Homo sapiens: one gene and its partner. The protein of the gene in region 1 interacts with the protein of each later gene in a biochemical or structural test. Each region holds a gene or a part of one and is shown on either strand. Other genes may lie near its edges. The genes, in order: NAV1 and TRIO.

Evidence for each region.
Region 2: the proteins of NAV1 (region 1) and TRIO form a complex in vitro, tested with the Homo sapiens proteins (one study listed by BioGRID).

Annotation. Positions count from the first base shown.
Region 1 is NC_000001.11:201,779,698-201,787,681, forward strand, and holds part of NAV1 (neuron navigator 1), read left to right. Parts: intron 1-723; coding exon 724-862; intron 863-1,314; coding exon 1,315-1,612; intron 1,613-2,478; coding exon 2,479-3,172; intron 3,173-3,708; coding exon 3,709-4,155; intron 4,156-5,612; coding exon 5,613-5,654; intron 5,655-6,731; coding exon 6,732-6,880; intron 6,881-7,984. UniProt on the Homo sapiens protein: May be involved in neuronal migration.
Region 2 is NC_000005.10:14,286,342-14,293,341, forward strand, and holds part of TRIO (triple functional domain protein), read left to right. Parts: intron 1-529; coding exon 530-722; intron 723-4,374; coding exon 4,375-4,887; intron 4,888-6,670; coding exon 6,671-6,793; intron 6,794-7,000. UniProt on the Homo sapiens protein: Guanine nucleotide exchange factor (GEF) for RHOA and RAC1 GTPases. Involved in coordinating actin remodeling, which is necessary for cell migration and growth. Plays a key role in the regulation of neurite outgrowth and lamellipodia formation.

The DNA of each region.
Region 1 (7,984 bases):
GTAGCGTTTTTGGATACAGATGTTTACAGATAAAGATGTTTAACAGCAGTATCTCCCTAATACCACAGACCTGATATTCCAAGCAATTGGCAGAGAAATGAATCCATTCAGCACAAATTTGGCCCCTCTACATGGCCACAGCACCTTAGATTTGGTTCACTTAACAGAAGAACAGTATGTTCTGTTTAGAAGCAGGACCCGATCCCAGGATAGGGTGAACTGCATAAACGGAGGCTCAATGAGAAATGATAAAAGTCTAAGAGGTTCTAGAAAAGAGAAATCTTTTTCTGGGCCTCATTACCAGTTATAGACATTTTTAGAAAAGGAGGGGGAGAATAGATGCAGAACGCGTCTAAAAATGAACAAAGATATGTTAATTTTAAGAATGGAGGTTGTTTACAGGGAGAGTAAATTGGTTTGTATAATTAGATTGATCCAAAAATTACCTTGCCTTTATAAAATACCTTTCTGTTAAGAAGATACAACGTTTTCTCTTGCCAGATAAAGGCAGAGTCTCTTCCTTTTGTAAAAGAACATCACCAAATTACAAGGAAGTTTAAGTCACACTTTGAGTTGCTGACAAACCTAGGACAAACCCCCAGGTTTTCTCCTTTTGGCTAGCCTATATACTGGTGCAGAGCCATTCTTGCATCAATGTGAAACATTTATTTTTTGCCTGGGCTTCTGTTTTAACGATTGACCTTCATCTCTCCTGTCCTGTAGCTGGGATGAAAGCAGCTCCATCAGTAGTGGACTCAGCGATGCCTCAGACAATCTCAGTTCAGAAGAATTCAATGCCAGCTCCTCACTCAACTCCCTCCCAAGTACTCCCACTGCTTCTCGCAGGAACTCAACAATAGTGGTACGTGAGTTTGCAAACACCCAAGCTGCCATCTCAAGATGAACCACAGGGCAAATGGCATTATCTGTGTATGGGGTTGCACGTACACACCCACTCCATGGGATTGGTTCTCATAGGCCTTTGGCCAGGTCATTTTAGAGTTGCCCCCACCCCCTCCCAAAAAAAGCTAAGGCTACTCACCCAAGACATTAGATGTTGTCATATTGTGTATACTTAGTGCCTACACCAATCTAGAGTGATACATGTAAGAGCTATTCCAACTGGAGAAAAAGAAACCCCGAGATATATGTCATCTGCTGTTGGAAACCCTAGGGGTATAGGTAGAAACCCTCAGTTTGACTTAATACTCTGAGATGAGCAGCGCCAGGTACTAACTAAAATCAATCCTGTCAGCTATCCAGTCTCCCATCTGCATAGAAGTATCTCACTCTGCCTTTTTCTCTTTTCTTTAGCTACGCACAGACTCAGAGAAGCGCTCACTGGCAGAAAGTGGGCTGAGCTGGTTTAGTGAATCAGAGGAGAAAGCCCCTAAAAAACTGGAGTACGACAGTGGTAGCCTGAAGATGGAACCTGGGACTTCTAAGTGGCGGAGGGAGCGGCCTGAGAGCTGTGATGATTCATCCAAGGGTGGAGAACTGAAAAAGCCCATCAGCCTGGGCCACCCTGGTTCCCTGAAGAAGGGCAAGACCCCACCTGTGGCTGTAACTTCCCCCATCACTCACACAGCCCAGAGTGCCCTCAAAGTCGCAGGTGAGCCTGGAATAAAGGAAGGTACAAGGGCAAAGACCTAGTTCTTTGGTTGCTCCTCTTCTTAGTGGTCATTAACCCATAGGATGATAGCAAACATTTGCATAGTGCTTTAACAGACATTATCTTATCTGGTCTAAGGACAGTCCCGTGAGTTAGGAAAGATGGGTGTTATTATTTCCATTTTACAAATGTGGAGGAAATAGAAACTCAAAGAGATTAAGTGGCTGGGCCAAAATCCCAGTTAATATGAGGTACAGGAGGAAGTATATTATGTTTAGAGACTAGTTTGGCCTCCTTCCAAACACTTCCAATGCTTGCTTTCTTCTTTCTCCCAAGTTAGTCACTCAAGGCACTTATTTTCATAGGATACAGCTTGACATCTCAGGAAGATCCTAAGAAAACAATAAATAAAATGGCTACAGCAAGAGAATTATAGTGCCCCCAAAGTTGGCCCCTTGGGTAACTTTTAGCCTTAATCAACATTTTCCTGTAGTCTCTAATTACTAAGAGATATTGTCATACTCTATTCCATTTGCTTCCCCACCTTTTTTTTCCCTTCCACAACTAGTTGTTAGATGGATATTCTTGATCATCTTTGTGTTTGCCTCTGCCTTTTTAATCAAAATGGACCATTCTACTCTGGGAGCAAAACAAAAAAAATTCCTAGCCTCCCCACCCCTCCCAGCCAGAGTCTTTCAGACAAGAAACTTTATCAGCTTATCTTGTACCTGTTTACCCAAATTTAGGCCTCTAAAAGTCTACAATACATGGACAATGTTCCCTTCTCCCATGGAGGGAAAGAAAAGGGTGGGTTTTTAAGATACTGGTCAGTTTCAGCTCTTTTCTCATTTCCCGTCCTCTTGCAGGCAAACCTGAGGGCAAAGCTACAGACAAGGGTAAGCTTGCAGTGAAGAATACTGGGCTCCAACGCTCCTCCTCTGATGCTGGTCGGGACCGCCTGAGTGATGCTAAGAAGCCCCCCTCGGGCATTGCTCGCCCCTCCACTTCGGGATCCTTTGGCTACAAGAAGCCTCCTCCTGCCACAGGCACAGCCACTGTCATGCAAACTGGTGGTTCAGCCACTCTCAGCAAGATCCAGAAGTCCTCAGGCATCCCTGTCAAGCCAGTAAATGGGCGCAAGACTAGCTTAGATGTTTCCAACAGTGCAGAGCCAGGATTCCTGGCTCCTGGAGCCCGTTCTAACATCCAGTACCGCAGCCTGCCCCGGCCAGCCAAGTCAAGTTCTATGAGCGTGACCGGCGGGCGGGGTGGACCTCGCCCTGTGAGCAGCAGCATTGACCCCAGTCTCCTCAGCACCAAGCAGGGAGGCCTTACGCCTTCCAGACTGAAGGAGCCTACCAAGGTAGCCAGTGGGCGGACCACTCCAGCCCCTGTCAATCAGACAGATCGGGAAAAGGAGAAGGCCAAAGCCAAGGCAGTGGCCTTGGACTCAGACAACATCTCCTTGAAGAGTATTGGCTCCCCAGAAAGTACTCCCAAGAACCAAGCAAGCCACCCCACAGCCACCAAGCTGGCAGAGCTGCCACCAACCCCTCTCAGGTACCCAATGTGGGCAGCCGCCTCCTTGTCTGTTTGCTTTGTCATTCTTTCGCATATCTCTGCCCTCCTTGGACTAGATGAGGCATGGCCTATCCACCGTTGTCTCTAGGCCTTTGCATGGCTCTTTCCCACCTCTCCCCCATATGCCAAGGTTCTGAAAGAATCTAGTTTCTGACAGTTCTGAAAGACTGAATCCCTCTTTCAAAACTTACCTCATTTGTACTATTCTCTGATCAATGCTTACCCTGTCTTCAGCACTTGTATGGGTGTTTTTACTGTTTATTTACACATATATACCTATTTGCATAAATTCACTTGTATCTCCCATGTGCATATGCTGGCCCCTTATCTAAGCTGAATGTGCCCCAAGTTGGGTATCAGATTTCCTTGCATTGTATTTCACAACAGCATTAGGATAAGCCTCTGTGCTTAGCAAATAGGCAGAAAACAAGACTGGATAGGATTTCTTTAAGGTCCTATCTGCCTCTCACTCTGTAATTCTATTATTCTAAATATTTCGTTTGATCTTCTCTCAGGGCCACAGCGAAGAGCTTTGTCAAACCACCCTCACTAGCCAATCTTGACAAGGTCAACTCCAACAGTCTGGATCTACCATCATCCAGTGATACCACCCATGCTTCAAAGGTCCCAGATCTGCATGCTACAAGCTCAGCATCTGGGGGCCCTCTCCCTTCCTGCTTCACCCCCAGTCCGGCACCCATCCTCAATATTAACTCAGCCAGCTTCTCCCAGGGCCTGGAGCTAATGAGTGGTTTCAGTGTGCCAAAAGAGACCCGCATGTACCCCAAACTCTCAGGCCTGCACAGGAGCATGGAGTCCCTCCAGATGCCAATGAGCCTCCCCAGTGCCTTCCCCAGCAGTACTCCCGTCCCCACCCCACCTGCTCCCCCTGCTGCTCCCACAGAAGAAGAGACGGAAGAGCTGACTTGGAGTGGAAGCCCCAGAGCTGGGCAACTGGACAGGTAGGTAGAAAAGACAGCAGAACCTCGGCCTGTCTCCGTGTCTTGGGCTCATTTTGCCATTGGCAATACTATCCTATATTTTATTGCCATTTTGTGACTTTTGACATTTTTTCACATATATTAAGTAATTTAATTTGCTTCACAACAACTCCATGAGATAGGTAAGATGTGTTTTTGTTTTTAAATTATTATTCTTATATTAAAAATGAAGAAACTTGTGCACAAAGAAGTTAAATGACTCATCCAAGATCTCATAATTAGGTTAACCTATCATCCAGAGCTTTTGCTTCCTAGTCCAAAATCATTTTGTTTTGTTTTGTTTGAGATGGAGTTTTGCTCTTGTTGCCCAGGCTGGAGTGCAGTGGTGCAGTCTTGGCTCACTGCAATCTCTGCCTCCCAGGTTCAAGCAGTTCTCCTGCTTCAGCCTGCTAAGTAGCTGGGATTACAGGCACTTGCCACCATGCACGGCTAATTTTTGTATTTTTAGTAGAGACCAGGTTTCACCATGTTGGCCAGGCTGGTCTTGAACTCCTGACCTCAAGTGATCTGCCTACATCAGCTTCCCAAAGTGCTGGGATTACAGGCATGAGCCACCACACCTGGCTGCCCAGAATCTTTTCTTTTATATCACATCCTAGTTTTCCCCTCCCTTCCCCCTATATGCCAAGGTTATCAAACTACCTATATGGTAGTTTTTACCTACCATAATACGATCTATTTTTTTTTTTTTTTTGAGATGGGGTCTCACTATGTTGCCCAGACTGGACTCAAAACTCCTTGGCTTAAGCAATCCTCCTGCCTCAGCCTCCCGGGAGCTGCAACTACAGGCTCATGCCACTGTCCCTAGTGCCATAATATGATCTTTTAAATAACTAACTATGCCTTAATTTCTTTTTTGTTTGTTTGTTTTTTGTTGTTGTTGTTGTTGTTTTGAGACGGAGTCTTGCTCTGTCGCCCAGGCTGGAGTGCAGTGGCGCGATCTTGGCTCACTTGCAAGTTCCACCTCCTGGGTTCATGCCATTCTCCTGCCTCAGCCTCCCGAGTAGCTGGGGACTACAGGCGCCCACCACTGCGTCTGGCTAATTTTTTGTATTTTTAGTAGAGACGAGGTTTCACCGTGTTAGCCAGGATGGTCTCGATCTCCCGACCTCGTGATCCACCCGCCTTGGCCTGCCAAAGTGCTGGGATTACAGGCGTGAGCTACGGCGCCCGGCCTAACCATGACTTAATTTCTAATCAGAGAAATAACATTTAATATTTCAGATAAATTTCCCAAGTTGTAAGCCAAGAAGCAGGCTATAGTATCTCTTGGTTTCTAGAGCTAAAGCAGGTCATAGTTTGATGTCCTGCGTCTAGGGTCTGCATACCTCACACCAATGGTCCTAAACTCTAGTTCCTAAGATGGACCCACATGCTTCTCTCTCTCTCTCTTTTTTTTTTTTTTTTTATCTCCACAGTAATCAGCGGGATCGGAACACTCTTCCCAAGAAAGGGCTCAGGTAACCCTTTAATGTGTTTTTTCTTCCCTATAAATGGGACTGCTGGTATGTATGAAAAATCATATCTCAACCTGTCCAAGGCTCCAGTCATGAATTTAGTCACCCTTTTAGCTGAATCATTTGTATGTGGTCCCATACAAGTACCACCTAGTACCTTGCCCAAGCTTAATATTATGTGAGTCAACTTTTACAGCAAGTGTTCTTTTTTTGGTGACAGGGGAGAAACAAGTTTGCACATGGGAATCATGCACTTACCTGTACTAGCCTATGCCATCCCAATCCTGGCTGAGCTTCATCTCTGTAATTTTCTTCCCTAAAAGTATGAGGGAGAACAGTCTGCTTCTTTGGTCACTCAGCTGGGCTAGGGGCAGGACCTACCTGGTCATCCACTGTTCTGACAGCACTGAGTTGTTCAGTTGGGTGGCAACTATTGCAACTTTTTTTTTTTTTTTTTTTTTTGAGACGGAGTCTCGCTCTGTCACCCAGGCTGGAGTGCAGTGGCACAATCTCAGCTCACTGCAACCTCCACCTCCCAGATTCAAGCGATTCTCCTGCCTCAGCCTCCCGAGTAGCTGGGGTTATAGGTGTGCACCACCAAGCCTGGCTAAATTTTGTATTTTTAGTAGAGATGGGGTTTCACCATGTTGGCCAGGCTGGTCTCAAACTCCTGACCTCAAGTGATCCACCCACCTCAGCCTCCCAAAGTGCTGGGATTACAGGCATGAGCCACTGTGCCTGACCGACTCTTGCAACTTGAAAGCCCACATGTGGAATCATAAGTCTCTGTCCTGAACTTCTGAGGAGAAGTTCTAATGCCTCCTCCATCACTTCTGCCCCCAGCTCAGGAACCCTTACGGGAATACCTGCTAGTCCTTCCACACCCTCTGGATGGTCTGGGAGAGGAGGCTGAGTCGCCACCTCTTACTCCCTCCTTGGGCAGCCCTGACCACTCCCTCTTTTCCATGTCCTGCTTTCAGAATCTCCTGGCTCCAGCCTAGTTCAGACACCCTCCGCACCAACTAAACCTCTGACCGCACTTGCTAGTCCCAGACTGAGTTCTTCTGCTGCTTCCTACAGGTACCAGCTTCAGTCCCAGGAGGAGACCAAGGAGAGGCGACATTCCCATACCATTGGTGGGCTGCCTGAATCCGATGACCAGTCAGAGCTGCCTTCTCCCCCTGCACTTCCCATGTCTCTGAGTGCAAAGGGCCAACTTACCAACATAGGTTAGTGTTTTCAGTCACTCACTGTGGCATGGGGTGAAGCAGGGGTCACCCTGCAGGGTGAGGCAAGGCAGGTGGGCTTTGGGTTTCATCTCATGTTTGACTCATGCTGTATTGGGTTGTTTCATGGTGCCTCAGTTTATCCACCCAAAGTAAGATTGAAGGTAGAGTACTTTGAGATCCTAAACTGAAAAGTTGCCCCTAGGCACAAGTTGTAGGGTCCTTTTAGCATCAGAGAGCCTGAATGGTGGCATGGAAAAGCTGTAACCCAAAGCCCAGAGATCAGACCAGTGCAAGAGCAGGCACATTGAACTGCCGGAAAGGAGCCACCACACCCAGTACTACTAGGGCCAGCTAATGAGAGGGCAATACTGAAATGTCAGGCCGACGGGGAGGAAGGAGGGAAAGGTTGTTGATTGCCAAGGACGAGATCTGCCTCCAAACTCAGCCAAGTCCAGATTCCTCAACTGCTCTGGCTGAGCCCAGGCCATCCTAACGCTGAAGGCAGGGCTGACTCAGATGTGTCCTGGCCACCCCCTTCCTAAAGCCTAGGGAGAAAGGAGAGCTAGGAAATAAGGAAGTGACTTAGAGACAGGGAGGAGAGGAAGCATCAGGTGGAGGGTCTGGCCTAGCACAGAAGCACACCAGCTCCGGTTCTGTGAAGCAGTACGCCATGATTGGCCTACTAGGAATCCATTCAGGAATAGTGCCTGGGATAGGCCTGTTATCTGCTTGCTGCATCTCTTTAAATCCATCTCTTCTTTCAGCTGAGTAAAAGAAATCAGTTAATAAAAGACAAGGACCTGTAACACACCCATGCAGTGACTGTGGGGAATTTGAGGAAAGACTAGGAATTGGGATCACTTGGCCTAGGGAAAAGAACCATTGTTCAGACAGGATCATCTGCCCTCTGAAGGGCTACTAAATGGAGGATGGGGCCAGCTTGTTCTCTATCTCCATTGAAGACCAAATAAGAAGAATTGCATTTATGCTGCAGAATGAGGGGCTGGGCTAAGCAATAATTACCTCAGGAATTTGAAAAGGTCAACAGAGAGGTGTGCCATCTTCTTCTGCACAGGTCTTTATGGACAGATTAGACATCCACCT
Region 2 (7,000 bases), on another chromosome or scaffold:
AACATAAGAAAGTTCTCATCATTGCCAGCCATGCTAGTGGGGGGTCATTTTCAGCACCTGGGGTGCTGGGAGTCCTGGGGTAACTGCCGTCCACAGGTCTCAGACTGTCCCCAGTCTGGGTTTTGTTGCAGGCTGTCAGGGTTTTGTACTCACCCGATGCTCCCTGGAGACCTTTGCTCGCAGGAGTGACTGGAGGAGTTCATGTAATCAATTAATGCACCAAAGTCAGGAGAAATGGGCATGGTGACCGTTGTTTTCCTGAAAAGAAGACGGGATGCAAAACCATTAATACAAAATTGAAATCTTAACAGGTTTTGCAGGTTGAACATGAAGCGTGTATAGCCTGGGTCTCTTCCTTTATGGTACAAGGGAGGGACGAGAAGGAGCTGAGCACAGTGTGCTCCTTCCCCTGCCTCCGCACGTGTCCAGCAGGGGAGGGAAGCTGGGTCTGTGGCACCCAGTGGGACTCTGACCAGGCAGAGTGGCAAGAGATGTAACCCGTCTTCAGCCATGTTTTCTTTCTCTGCAGCGAGGAGGTCTGCAAGCGTGGCTTCACGGTGATCGTGGACATGCGTGGGTCCAAGTGGGACTCCATCAAGCCCCTTCTGAAGATCCTGCAGGAGTCCTTCCCCTGCTGCATCCATGTGGCCCTGATCATCAAGCCAGACAACTTCTGGCAGAAACAGAGGACTAATTTTGGCAGTTCTAAATTTGAATTTGAGGTAACTTCCCCCGTGTGGCTAGACCCACTAAACAAGTTGGTGTGGTTTACTAAAAGCTATTGAGGCTAATGAGAGATTTTTTTTTTAAACCACATATTAAACAGGAGCTGCATATCTTACGAACATGTGATACGTAAAATTAGTTACTGCATGAAATAACAGAGCTGCGTTCATCATCCGAGTGGATTGTTTTACCCACATGGGCTTAGGTTTCAGTTCCCTTGGGTTGGGTGATGGGCTGTTGAGTTGTGAGGCCTTGGCAGAGAAGCTTGCTGGCTGCCTTATATTTCACTTGACAAACAGCTTTACCAGGCAGCACTGTGGCTTTGCACAGTTACAGATTCATTCTCCTTGCCTCAGCCCTGGAGATGAGGGAATGTTAGGGAGAAATGCCCAACTTCAGAGTCCCTAAGTTTCATCCTGTCATGGATAATGGAAAGAATGCATGTATTAGGCCTCTGATTTCTGAAAATGGAGATAGTGTGTTAAAAACTGTGCAGAGTCCTGAATTCAGTTAGGCATGGAAGATTGCCGTCTTTCAGTGGTAAAAACAAGACAAAACCCTCAGCCCACTAATTATTTTGCTTCCCACTGTAACCTCCTCTCCTTAAGCTACCAAGGTTCTGACAAGGCCTTCGGTGCAGTTAGTTTAATGAGATGATTATGGGAGGAAAGTCTTCCTGCCAGCATGAAACTTGATTCTTGCTCCATTTGGAATAAGATTTTAATATTTTCTAATAAGAAATACTTTTTGGTTGAATAGATTGCTTCCTCTGGCAAATCTGCTCAAACGTTAGGTTTCAGTGGATGTATTCATGTATTTTAAGGTAAACAGCAATAATATTAAACATCAGACAGTGTTAATCCTTAATCTTCAGGTTATAATGCTATACTTTTCAAAGTGTTTGCACAGGTGTATTACTTGGATTTTTAAATTCTTTCCATAGTACTCATTTTTCTATCCAAAATATGAACTTAGTTTTAAATTTGAAACTACTCAGGTTTACTACACTCCATCAGAAAGATGAACCCAGTAAGCCTTTATCTTCATAGAGAATAGGAAGTAATTTTGGAGGACAGTTTATTGGGTGTTAATTATTTTCTTGATGCAGAATTGAAAGTGCATTGTATTTAATTATAAGTGTTTTAAGTAAAAATAATGGTCTGGCAATACAATTCATACAGGTTTTTCCAGTCCAGTTTTGATCTCTCCCTCAGGGCTCTTAAAGGCACCAGTTTTTCTATGGAACTTGTTACATTGTTACCAGCCTCTCTCTCCCCACCCAGTGATTGCCTCTGTGGAGATTATTAAAAGTCCAGCAGGACCGGGTGTGGTGGCTCACGCCTGTAATCCTAGCACTTTGGGAGGCCGAGGCGGGCGGACCACGAGGTCAGGAGATTGAGACCATCCTGGCTAACACGGTGAAACCCCATCTCTACTAAAATACAAAAAATTAGCCGGGCGTGGTGGCAGGCACCTGTAGTCCCAGCTACTTGGGAGGCTGAGGCAGGAGAATGGCGTGAACCTGGGAGGCAGAGCTTGCAGTGAGCCGAGATTGTGCCGCTGCACTCCAGCCTGGGCAACAGAGCGAGATTCCGCCTCAAAAAAAAAAAAAGTCCAGCAAACGAGAGAGGAATGGGCCTATGGTAGGATTGTAGGCATAAGTGCTGGATCAGGAGTCATCCCTCTTCTACCTCTGCTGCCTTCTGATGTTTCTTTTGCCAACCAGCACGCCGGACCAGCCCTTCTTGTTTTCTCTTTTGGTTCTAGGTCACAACTCTTTCTCCTTCACCTTTGTCTTTGCATTTAATCTTCCCCCTCCATGTTTTCCTTGAGGCATATTAATATTAATCTGCTTCACATCATGATAAGGTGAGGTTAAGATTTCTTGCCGAGGCCAGGCACAGTGGCTCATGCCTGTAATCCCAGCACTTTGAGATTCTAAGGGAGGAGGACTGCTTGAGGCTGGGAGTTCGAGCCCAGCCTGAGAAACTTAGCAAGAGCCTGTCTCTATATTTTGTTTTAAAAATTAGCCAGGTGTGGCCGGGCGCGGTGGCTCATGCCTGTAATCCCAGCACTTTGGAAGGCCGAGGCGGGCGGATCACAAGGTCAGGAGTTCGAGACAACCTGGCCAACATGGTGAAACTCCATCTCTACTAAAAATACAAAAATTAGCTGAGCGTGGTGTAAGTCACCTGTAATCCCAGCTACTCGGGAGGCTGAGGCAGGAGAATCACTTGAAATCGGAAGGTGTAGGTTGCAGTGAGCTGAGGTTGCACCACTGCACTGCAGCATGGGCAACAAGAGCAAAACCCTGTCTCAAAAAACAAACAAACAAAAATCACCAGGTGTGGTGGCACACGTGTAATTCCAGCTACTCAAGAGGCTTAAGATGGGAGGATGGCTTGAGCCCAGGAATTTAAGCTTACAGCATGTAATCATCGCCACACTCCAGTCTGGAAGACAGAGCATGACCCTTTTTTTCCTTTTTTAAAAAAAAAGGTCGTGTGCGATGTCTCATGCCTGTAATCCCAGCACTTTGGGAGGCTGAAGTGGGTGGATCATTTGAGATCAGGAATTTGAAACCAGCGTGACCAACATGGTGAAACCCCGTCTCTACTAAAAATACAAAAGAATTAGCCTGGTGTGGTGGTGGGCACCTGTAGTCCCAGCTACTCGGGAGGCTGAGGCAGGAGATCACTTGAACCTGGGAGGCAGAGGTTGCAGTAAGCTGAGACTGCGCCACTGCACTCCAGCCTGGGTGACAGAGCAAGACTCCATCTCAAAAAAAAATAATAATAATAAATATAAAGATTTCTTGCTTAGACTGTAATTGACTAAAACTTTGTCACTGTTAAATTGCAATGTAGTACAGATTATATACAACTCTAGGACTGTTCAGAATCACAGCAGATTATTGCAATGAATAAAACATTGCCTCTATCCTTAGCTCTGTCAAATGAGCCTCTGCCAGCTTTCTTGCCAACTCTTGAATATTTTCTAAATTTTTATAAATTCATTCATATCCCATCATCTGTTATTTGATGGGCAGTGGGGTTAGGCTTAGGCAAGATGAATGATAGGGTGGTCTGGTTGGAGCAGCATTCATCGTTTAATAGGCAGCCCACACGTAATTGAATTTAGAGTGATGTTACACTTAAAAGGGTTTTGATGCCCTTGAGCAAGACGTTTGTGTAATAGCAAGTAGTAGAAAACCTCCACAGAGTTTCTGGCATGGATGAAAAAGAATGGGGAGAAGAATGCATTGATGTAAGTGAAATTTCTGAATTGTTTGCTCTGAACTTGCAATTTAACCTGTTTCCTAGTTTAATGTGTCTGTTATAGTGGGTTAATCTCCATCTTCTTGGAAAGAAATCTCATTTCTTTAGCTCTCATGAAATACACGATTCTACAGTTTTGGGTATTCCAGCTGACATATATGTGTTGCTATAATGGATTTGTCTTTCATTGTACTGATAATGCTTCTTTCATCTACATTTATTTTTATGGGGCCAGAACCAGGTATGTTATGTTTTCTATAAATAGATTACTTTAACTTTGAAAACCTGTGACTGAGCATTGCAAATTGCATTATGTTAAAACTATATAAAATTGGTTCATCTTCTCATACGTGATTTTTTTTCCCTTAAGACAAATATGGTCTCTTTAGAAGGCCTTACCAAAGTAGTTGATCCTTCTCAGCTAACTCCTGAGTTTGATGGCTGCCTGGAATACAACCACGAAGAATGGATTGAAATCAGAGTTGCTTTTGAAGACTACATTAGCAATGCCACCCACATGCTGTCTCGGCTGGAGGAACTTCAGGACATCCTAGCTAAGAAGGAGCTGCCTCAGGATTTAGAGGGGGCTCGGAATATGATCGAGGAACATTCTCAGCTGAAGAAGAAGGTGATTAAGGCCCCCATCGAGGACCTGGATTTGGAGGGACAGAAGCTGCTTCAGAGGATACAGAGCAGTGAAAGCTTTCCCAAAAAGAACTCAGGCTCAGGCAATGCGGACCTGCAGAACCTCTTGCCCAAGGTGTCCACCATGCTGGACCGGCTGCACTCGACACGGCAGCATCTGCACCAGATGTGGCATGTGAGGAAGCTGAAGCTGGACCAGTGCTTCCAGCTGAGGCTGTTTGAACAGGATGCTGAGAAGGTAAAGACGGGGGAGGCTAATGCCTCAGTGGACATGGGGGAAGCCAGCGCTGGTGGGTTCGGGTGGAAGGAAAGAGAAAAGGTGGAGAATGGTAAGGCTATACTCACCGTGTGTGCTCTAAACCAGCGAGAGTCATTTCAGAAATGGCACTGAAATCTGTTTTCCGGTTTTACTCGTTGTGCAATACAGTGCTGTTTTAGAAATTTTGAGTTCAAATTACTTATTCTTTGGTCTAGGATGCCTGTAAGATAGGAATGATATTTTCACTTAAAAGAGTGAACATTTCGGCCGTGCTCACGCCTGTAATCCCAGCCCTTTGGGAGGCCGAGGTGGGCTGATCACCTGAGGTCAGGAGATTGAGACCAGTCTGGCCAACATAGTGAAACCCCGTCTCTACTAAAAATACGAAAATTAGCCGGGTGTGGTGGCACGCGCCTGTAATCCCAGCTACTCAGGAGGCTGAGGCAGGAGAATCGCTTGAACCCATGAGGCAGAGGTTGCAGTGAGCCAAGATCGTGCCATTGCATTTCGGCCTGGGCGACAGAGTGAGACTCCGTCTTAAAAAAAAAAAAAAAAAAAAAAAAAAAAGTGAAAATTTCACAGGGTTATGTTATTGACAAAACACCATTCCAATCTATTGAGTATGTTTTTTAAAATCAAGATGAGTAATGTGTTAAAAGTAACAGTTTCTGGGTAATATAGTTGGTAATCACCTCTAGTCTCATGTTTTATTCTTATGCACCAGGCAGACCAACTGGTCAAAGTGAATCCTTATCAATTACTGGCTAATTGAATCTTAGCAATGTGGAAACTGGGCACTTACCCATAGGTATGTGTTGCAAGCCATGAACATGGGTGAATTAATCATTGAGTTTTATTGGAGCTCATTGAATTTTATATTACATGGACAGGAGAATATTTTGTAAAGTAAAAAACCACATTAGAATTCTTGGATGTAAAAGGACTTTTCAAAAGGTGATAATCCAGTGTTTTTATTACTAAAGCTTTTAATGTATCTGTCAGTGTTCTTTTGTTTTAAGTAGCACCTTGTCTAAGAGACTGGAATACCTTCTTTTCAATTACTGGAAGACCAGGTTACTGTCACTGGGATTCTGGTTCAAGTCATGGTAGCAATGCTAATTGATGATAGTCATCTATATTTTCTTAAATGTTTTCATTGCAAATGTCTTAATTGACATCCTTGTCCAAGTAACATCTATATTGAACCTTAAGGGAGATGTCATAGTTAGTTTTTCCCACCTTTTTTATAGTAAATTTTATGTTTTTGCAATCTGCACAGGTGTCTGTGTACTTCTTGATCAAACAGTGGAATCTTTTAGTCATTGATATTTCTGTCAGTAACCTGTGGGCACAGCAGAACCCATCCAGAGACCCATAAGTTCCTAATTTCACCCTAACGGGTCTTTAATTGAACCTCACTGTGGCAAATTAAGTAGTTCAGCGTGGCAGGGAGACTGGGCTGAGAGTCAGAGGATCAGAGTTTTTAATCAGCCTGGGGGATTAGAGTAACTCTCTTTACTTATCTGCTTCTTAATTCCTTCTCTGTAAGAGGAACACATCAGATAAGATTTTCTGGTAGGTCCTGCAAGTTCAGAACTGCTGACTTGTTCTTCGAAGTAAAGACTCTTCTGAGAGAATCAGACAGCGCTTGAAGTTGTCCAGGGAAGGAAGTTGCCCTTTCTTGGTACTGCCCCATCTGTGGGCTTGTGTCAGTAATTTCTCTTTCTGGAGTGATTGCGGGTTGTCTTTTTCCTTCCGGTAGATGTTTGACTGGATCACACACAACAAAGGCCTGTTTCTAAACAGCTACACAGAGATTGGGACCAGCCACCCTCATGCCATGGAGCTTCAGACGCAGCACAATCACTTTGCCATGAACTGTATGGTAAGACACTCGGAACAGCTGGACCCTGGCATGTGACAGTGTTTTAGCAAATGGGAGGCATTTGGCAAATTGTATGCTAGGGCTTTCAAGGGGCCTTCGGAGTGGCTGTTGATTGTAGCAGCTGACCTTCACATGGAGGGTGTTCCCTAGGGTTCCATTGTCTCACTATCCCACATTTTAAGTTTTAAACAAAAATGAAAACAAGCA